Linked DNA regions of Homo sapiens: region 2 is linked to region 1. Evidence: fine-mapped expression QTL. A gene starts in region 1. The other region holds a variant in brackets. All regions are shown on one strand. Distances are between the middles of the regions. Region 1 holds the start of LINC02884 (long intergenic non-protein coding RNA 2884). Region 2 overlaps LINC02884 (long intergenic non-protein coding RNA 2884).

Evidence for each region. PIP is the estimated chance that this variant, and not a neighbour inherited with it, causes the effect.
Region 2: its variant is the best candidate, but not a certain one, in a credible set for the expression of LINC02884 in prefrontal cortex (ROSMAP, PIP 0.55).

The regions. Positions count from the first base shown.
Region 1 is chr1:112,358,645-112,362,644 of GRCh38, forward strand. It overlaps LINC02884 (long intergenic non-protein coding RNA 2884), which reads right to left and starts at 1,963. Exons shown (of 2, transcript NR_183466.1): 1 at 1,718-1,963.
Region 2 is chr1:112,241,532-112,246,049 of GRCh38, forward strand. All of the region lies in intron 1 of LINC02884 (long intergenic non-protein coding RNA 2884), which reads right to left. Among named protein-coding and RNA genes, the nearest start is that of LINC02884, 120 kb to the right of the region's middle. The variant G/A (reference allele first, on the strand shown) is at 2,107.

The sequences.
Region 1 (4,000 bases):
GTAGATGGCACATGGAAGAGCTCAATAAACACTAACTATCCTCAAAACACATGAAAACTACTCAAGAGACATTTCACTTGCGGGCACATGAACTTACTACCAATTGAGAGTCTCAGCGCTGAGGTTGTGCAGTGAAGGAGCATGTCAAATGGTGGGAATTAATCAAGAAATCCTTTCAGGAGGAAGGACAACTTCAACACAGGTTAAAAGAGAAGAGACAGGATAGCACTGCCTGCAGCTGTGCATGTCCTAGCGTGTGTCCCCATTATGCTAGACCCACAGCCAAGAGGAGCCAAGCAACCCCACAGAATTACCAGCAAGCCGCCAGCAGATGGAGCCAGCCACCTCCACACACTGCTGTTCAAGGCACCAGCACCCTCTAAATGGACCGGCACCCAGCCCACGTCCAGTCAGGAGCAGGACTGAGAGAGATCAAGGAAGAGTCACCCTTCACGCCCCTGTGGAGATGATAAGGGTGCTTTCCTGCCCCAGTGTGAGGGGAGAGGGAATCCAGACTCTCCCTGATGCCTCAGAGGCACAGCTCACTGTCAGAGTCCTTGCCATCCTGGAAGCCTAGGACTGCAGCCCAGTGCCCTTGTTGTTCACCTACCCCACTGTGGGAAGGAAAAGCAGGATGCCTGATGAACTTACTTTGAGGGCTGGGACTGCACTTGAATGTAGAGACTGGTATCCATCTGAGTCTGGGAGATTCTGAAAGCAAGAGGCCCACTACAGTAGCCCATCCGGCAGGGCTCGAAGGACCCTGGGGCAGCATGACTGGGAAGAAGATGGGGGCAGCTCTCCCTTCCCAGGTCTGTGGGGCCCTTGAAGGATTATGGGAGAGGATTCCTGCAGGCCCTGTGGCTCTGCATGGAGATGCACGGAAGTCAGTGGAAGGGCAGGAGCTGAGGGTTTGCCCAGGTACCCATGGCCAAGTCAACAAAGGGTCGTTGGGCACCTGTACCACTGTTGAGGCTAAAGAGAGGTGCATCTGTGTGAGGGAAGGAGGGGGAAAGGGTGGTGTTCAGTGATGGAGGAGGGTGGGGTGAGATCTTCAGCATCTAACAGAGCCACAAAGAACAGGAAGGGGAAAAGGACACTCCTGTAAAGAGGTCTCTTACTCTCCATCCCTCCTCTCTGCCCAAATACAGATGCTGAGGCCTCAAAGAGGGAGGAGGTGAGGCATCTTCAAGCCAGGCCCTACTTCCCCTCCACTGCTCCAAACAACCAGGACCCAACTCTCACTTGTGCTGGAGGGAAGGGGAGAGAAGAGCTCTGAATCGAGTTTGCAATGAAAGTTTTAAAAATATAAGAGGCTGAGTCTTAATTACTGGAATGAGACTGTTATAGTAACCGAAAGTGGCTGAAAAGTTATGGAACCAGACCAAGATGTCGTTAAGGGAGCGGCTCCTCAGCAGGAAAGAGAGATCTGGCACAGCACAGCCAGGGCAGTTACTGGAAGAAATAAAATCTTTTCATGTTTATACCCCAACGAGTTGAGACTCCCCAGTGAATCAGGCACACAGGAAGTACCTGGGCCTTGGACACCAGTGTCCCTGTGGTCAGAGTACCCCATGAAGGATGATGTCACGCGGAGCACAACCTCCTCTTCCCATTCAGGTGCTGTCTCACCTCCCAGGGCAAGAGAAGCAGGAGGAATTTGTCCTCCAGCTTTAATGAGGCACTTAGAAAGAGGAACAGGATGGTTTCTTCTTACCGGAATCCTCGATGGAATGCAGGCGCAGGCAGCTGAAAGAGATGGTGCAATTTGCATACTTCTGGTGGATTCCAGGAAGCATCAGCCCCATTTCACCCTAACAGCCAGTGGACTCTGCCTGGGAGGGCCAACAGCCAAAGAGAGCTTTCAGTCTCCAGGCTGAGAAAGTCAGGAGAGGAACAAGTCAGGGGACACCACCAGCCCTGGGACAGCGTGGCAGCATATCCAGAAGATCAGGAAACTGCCGCAGAGGCTTGGTCCCCTACTGGAAATTGAAAGAAAATGAAGTTTAGAAAGAGCAGGGTGGGAACTGGTTTGCAGAACAGAATGTTCCCTTGGCTTATTTTCATCTGGGGGAAAGGGAAGAACTAATACTTATTGAATGCCTGTGCTGTATCAGGCACTATGTTCATTCTTGTCTTATTTAATCCTCCCACAACCCTGTAAGGAAAGCATTTTCTCCATTTTACAGATGAAAAAACTGAGGCAGAGTGGTTGCCTAAGGTCACATGTTGTTGGAATTTGAACTTCATGTTTGTCTGTGTGGTAGACAGACACAGAGATGCCATGCTTACATTGCCCCTTCAATAAAGGACTCACTCCCCTGCTACCAAGAATGTTGGTTTTATTTGCCCCCAGCAATTAGTTCCTTCAAGGACCACCTGAGTTTTTAAGCCACAGTCACTCTCTTCTTAAGGCAGCCCCTAGCCAATGGCTGAGCAAGGTGGTAGTACAAAGGCCCATCCCTCTTCTACCAATGCGGAACTCCTCTAACAAGCAATTTTTGCTCAGAGCACCCTGTTAGACTGGCAGAGGCTTTGTCAAGTCTGCATCAGAAGCCAAGAGCTCCTCCTGGCCAAACTGCTTCCTCCCTTTTCCACTCACAGGTGATCCTCCCCTTTGCACTTCTACCTCTGTTGCAGCATCTAGTTCCAGAGAACCCAGTGGAGACTCCTAACAGCCTGACTGCAAAGCTTTCCCTTTTTCTGACACTTTATCTTCATTTTCACTTGTCCTTAGGTAACATTGCTGCAGTGCAGAGAGTGAGCTCCTTCTTGGTAGCAGGGGCTTCACCCCTTCCAGAAGAAAGCTACTGAAGGTTTAGTGATTAAGGCAGTTTCCAAAGAGTTAGTTATCCTTGATGATTATGTGCTCAATGCTCAAAGGCAGTTGCTAACATTCAGACTTTGAGGTCTAAAGTCCAAGTAAAGAGTCTACCCCCACCTTCTCCCTCTCCCTGACGTCAATTCCACCCCCTTAAATTGCTACAACATGGAATTAAGATATATAGTTTTATTATTTGTTGTGCTTAATGGAAAAGCTTTAGGATTTCTGAGTTTAATTTAAAAAGCAGATGGTCATAAGCAACAAAAGAAACAAATATATAAATTGGACTTCATCAAAACTAAAAATTTTGTGCTTCAAAGTACACTATCAAGAAAGTGAAAAAATAAGCCAGCACCCATAATCCCAGCTACTCAGGAGGCTGAGGCAGAAGGATCACTTGAGCCCAGGAGTTCAAGGCCAGCCTAGGCAACACAGAAAGACCCCATCTCTAAAATAATAATAATAACAAAGAAAGTAAAAAGACAAGCCAATTAAATAAGGGCAAAGAATTTGAATAAACATTTTTTCAAATAAAATATACACATAGCCAACGTGCACATGAAAAGTTGTTCAACATCATCAGTCATTAGGGTAATGCAAATCAAAACCAGAATGACACATCACTTTATATCCACTAGCATGGCTATAATTTTTTAAATGGACAATAACAAGTGTTGAAAAGAATGTGGAGAAATCGGAACTCTCATGCATTGTTGGTAAAACTGTAAAACAGTATGGCTGCCTTGGGAAACAGTTTGGCAATTCCTCAAAAAGTTAAATAAAGAGTTACCATATGACCCAACAATTCCACTCCTAGGTATATATCCAAGAAAATTGAAAACTTGTGTCCACATAAAAACTCATACTCAAATGTTCATAGAAGCATCATTCATAATTTCCAAAAAGTAGAAAGAACCCAAATGTTCATCAATTGATGAATGGATAAACCAAATGAAGTATATCCACACAATGGAATATTATTCAGCCACAAAGAATGAAGTACTGATACATGCCACAACATGGATGAACCTTGAAAACATTATGCTAAATAAAGAAGTCAGATATTAAAGCCCACATATTGTATGATACCTCTTATGTTAAATTTGCCAGAATAGGCAAATCCATAGAAACAGAAAGTAGACTAGTGGTTGCCTGGGGCTGGGAGGAGGGAAAAAT
Region 2 (4,518 bases), 120 kb before region 1:
TATGCAACATAGTGATAATCACAAGGAAAATAAAACAAGGAAGGGAGATAAGAGTGCCAGGAGTTATGTTATAAATTGGAGGTAGAGGGTAGAGAAGAACTCACCGAGAAAGTGGCTGGCATGGGAGCAAAGAGCTGAAGGAGGCAAAGGAGGGTGCAACGCAGGTATGTGGAGGAAGAGCATTTCAGGCAAAGGGAACAGCCTATGCACAGAGCCTGAAGTGGAAGTATGCCTGGCATGATGGATGCACAAAGAAAGGATCAGTGTGACTAAGCAGAGCGAGAGAGAAGGAAGTAGAGATTACAGGATCAGAGAAATAATGGGCGTGACTGGGAGGCGCATTATACCTTTGGCCACATAGAAAGGGAAATGGGTTGTCACTGAAGAGTTTGAGGCAGAGAAATGACATGACCTGACATGCATTTTAAAAAGCTCACAATAGACGTGGCACGGTGGCTCACACCTGTAATCCCAGCACTTTGGGAGGCCGGGGCGGGCGGATCACGAGGTCAGGAGAGCGAAACCATCCTGGCTAACACGGTGAAACCCCGTCTCTACTGAAAATACAAAAATTTAGCCAGGCGTGGTGGCAGGCGCCTGTAATCACAGCTACTCGGGAGGCTGAGGCAGGAGAATCTCTTGAACCTGGGAGGCGGAGGTTGCAGTGAGCCGAGATCGTGCCACTGCACTCCAGCCTGGGCGACAGAGCAAGACTTCGTCTCAAAAACAACAACAACAACAACAACAACAACAACAACAACAAACTCACACTGGCTCCTGGAACTGACTTGACTGTAGGGGGCGTGACTGATGCTAGCAGACTATTGTAGTAACCCAGGCAGAGATCATGGTGGCTTCCACCAGAGTGGGACAGTGGTAAGATTTGGAGCATGTTTTGAAATAGAGCCAAAATGACTTAATAATGACTGGGATGTGGATTGACAGAAAAGTGTCCAGAATGATTACAAGATTTCGAGCCTGAGCAATAGGAATGCTAGAATTATCATCAACTCAGATAAGGACGACTAAGAAAGGCCGGTTTGGGAGGTGGGGAAACAGTCGAAGAAAACCCACTGACACCGGCAGGATTCCATGCCTACATTGAGAGGAATCATTGTGCAAGATGGATGAATGGGGTACTCTGGTTGGCCAGCCTGTGTCAAGTGCCCTCCAATGTAGGAGGCAAAGCCTCATGATTGACAGCCCCATGGGATGGGAAAGTTATAATTCCTCAAAGGAAAGGTATACCTTTCACACAGATAGAGAAGCCACAGAGAGAAGCTAGGTGGCTTGTCCAGAGTCACACAATTTCTAGGAAATAGGAAATTTCTCTCCTGCTTCTCTTTACCCACATGCACAAAATCTGGCTGACTGCAGGCTGAGTCCCATCACCTGATATCAGTAAGAGCCTGTATGGTACACATTAGAATGAGCTCAAGTTGGCAAAATACACCCACAGGCACTAAACAGGGCCATCGCCCGTCAGAAGCAACAGCCATCTCTGAATCCTCAGGGTCTGGCACAGTGGTAGACACATAGTAGGTGCTCCAGAAACATTTACAAACGAATGAACAAAGCAATGGAAGCCCCACCGGGCTAGCCACTGGAAAAGTGGTTCTTTTGCTCAACTTCTTCCTAGGCTACAAAGAGATATATGCTATGGCTCTACTCTGGCCCCTCCCCTGCCCACTCCCCAGCAAAATTCTCTTTGAGAAAAATCTGTAGACATACAGAACCACTTGCTTTCCTCTTCCATAGTGGAGGAGAAGGGCCCAGAGCTGTGGTGCTCAGCAACACAGGTGGTTACTTGCTACCCAGAGGCCTGTGGCTTTGGTTTGGGGGAGTGGGAAGCTGAGCAGAGAGCCTGACCATCCAGGCTGCCACACACTCTGGCTTGTAGCAACTTCCCATCCCTGGCTCAGAAGCTACCCCTGGCTCTGGGCTGGTCCAGGGCTGGCCTAGCAGCCAAGGTTCTTTCAGTGAACCGGAAGATGGGAAAGAAAGGCTGAGAAGGAGGAGACGAGAGAAGCAGTGCCTGGGTGCCCAGAGTCAGAGGGACAAGTAACGCCTGTAAAATGTGGAGTCTAAATGAAGGGCAAGAGAAAA[G/A]AAGAGCATGAAGGAAGGAGGGAGAAAGGAGAGGAGAGGGAGGGATTGATTCCTCCAAAGCAGGCCAAGCCCCCAGGATCTGGCTGCTCCTAGAATCATCCTCCTGCAGAGGAGAAGTGAAAGGCCTCCTGCCAGTGGTCAGTGGGCGTGGACAGGAGAGACAGGAAGGACCATATCCTGATCCCTCTCCCCATCCTTTCTCCACCCTTCAGGCCCCAGGAGGCTGACACCAGAGGACTGTCTCACCAGGCTCCCTTGCTGTGCATCCAGTAGGGTTTGTAGGGGGGCCAAAGCAGGAACAGCTGGCAGAGTTCAGAATATGGGAAGAGAGAAAAGTCAGGGCATTTCTTCCCTATACCCTGCCTGTTTCAGGGCCACGTCTCTGGCTCTATCCCTGCATGGCTGTAGCTCCTGCAGAGTGGCCTCCTTTGCACAGTTGCTCCAGGGGCACCATTCTCTACCCCACTTCAGTCCCATCTCTCCAGCCTTAGGGATAGTGCAGCTTGTCTCTAGGTGCCTCGCCATTTCTTGTTTTCCCTCCATGCTGCCCTCACTTCTGTAAATCATTCCTAAGTTAAGTCCTCTTCATTTTAACCATCTGGGATGAACCATCTGAGATGAACCCATTTTCTTTTGGAGACTGTGGCTAATGCAGGCCCCAAGACTCCCTGAGAAATCCTGAGCACCAAACAGTGACTAAGGGGCAAATTCGCTCATCCAGAACATGGTTACTAAAGGTCTGCTCTGTGCTAGACACATTGAAAGGCCCAGAAATGATTCAGATTTGGGGCCCACTCTCTAGAAGCACATTGTCTAGCCAGAGCTGAGGCTGCAGAGACTTGGGGTCCCCAGCTGCCTGGGGACTCCTTAGCACATCCAGCCGCTCACTGCAACCAAAGGCTGGGGCTGCTGTCTCCCTGCCCACAACTGCCTCAGGCTGCTGCTTTGTGATCACTTTTCCCTTCAAGGTTGCCCTGGATCTTCGATTTTCCTTGACTTCTGGAAAAGGATGGAGCTGGGCAGAGGGTACAGGAGAGAGGAGAGGTCCCCAGTGGGCTTTGTGTTGCTTCCACACCTCTTAACGCTTAGACAAGAGCCAGCACAGGATGTGCGGCCAAAATGCATTTATCAAAGAAGCAAGTGTTCCTCCTGAGTAGAGGGGCAAGCATGCAAGGTCCTGGCAAGATGCAGCACTGGGCTGCACACAGGGAGAAGGAAAAGCCAAGGCCCCTGGGGCGCACAGCTCCATCATCAATACAACAGCTGCCTTCAGACAGAAATGCTAAGTGCAGAGTACAATATCCAAGCGAGGGACCCCAGCTGAAGGGTCGCACCCAACAGAATACACCACCAAAGCAGAGCAAGAAACTTGTGCACTGAAGTGATACAAAGCTGACGAAGAGTTTATATAAGCATGGTTAAGAACACAGACTCTGGAATCGCAGTGCCCAAGTTCAAATCCCACTTCTGCCCCTTACTTGCTGCATGACCTTGAAGTTACTTAACTGCTCTGTGCTTCACTTTCCTCACCTGTAAATTCTGTAAATTGAGGATGATAATAGTATCTGTCTCATGGGTTTGTGGTGGAGACTAAGTTAGTTATGAAGCTAGTAAGTTACAAAGCAAGTGCTCTTAGAACAGTCAGCCACAGGCGCATTACAAGTGCTATATATGTGCTTGCTATTATTAGTATTTGCTATTACAAAAGAGCAAAGCTGCATGGGCACAAGGGCAGACTACAAGCTGTGTAGACGTGATAGTATTGAAAATTATCAGCCAAGTGACACCAAAGCACACTTTACTTTTTGTATTTTCTACATGACAAAAGTTTTTTGACTTTTCTTGTACCATGCAACTTTGAAGAATAAACACACCTTATGCTTCAAAGTTGCCCAGCTAATTTCATCTTCTTTTGAAGATGGTTTTATAATGTTTCTGATACAATTTTCTTCACTTCCATGAAGTTGAGGGGCACCTGCCAGTCCAATCCAAGAAAAGAGGAATCACAGTTTTGCCTGGAACTGGATCTAAAGGAAGCCTCCCAAATGAAGACCAAATGGCAGGTGCAGAGAAGTGGTGCCCCACAGAAGTAAAGAACAAGGATTCTGGCATTGCACTGGAGTTCAAATCCCAAATAGACCACTGACAAGCTGTGTGACCTTGGGAAAGTGGCAACCTCCTCAAGCTTCAGTTTCTTCACCCATAGTTAGGAGAGATAGCTCCCTCTTCCAGGAGCTGTAAAAAGATCAATTACGTAAATCAAGGTCTACAGGATGCCAAACTCCAAGTCTGCTTTGGCATAGGTGCCCATCGCACTTTCCACTTTCTTTTTCCTGGAGAAATGGCCCTATTACCCACAGGCTGCCTGGGCTCAAGGAAACAACAGCAGGTGGCCAGGCCCTCCTGGTGTGG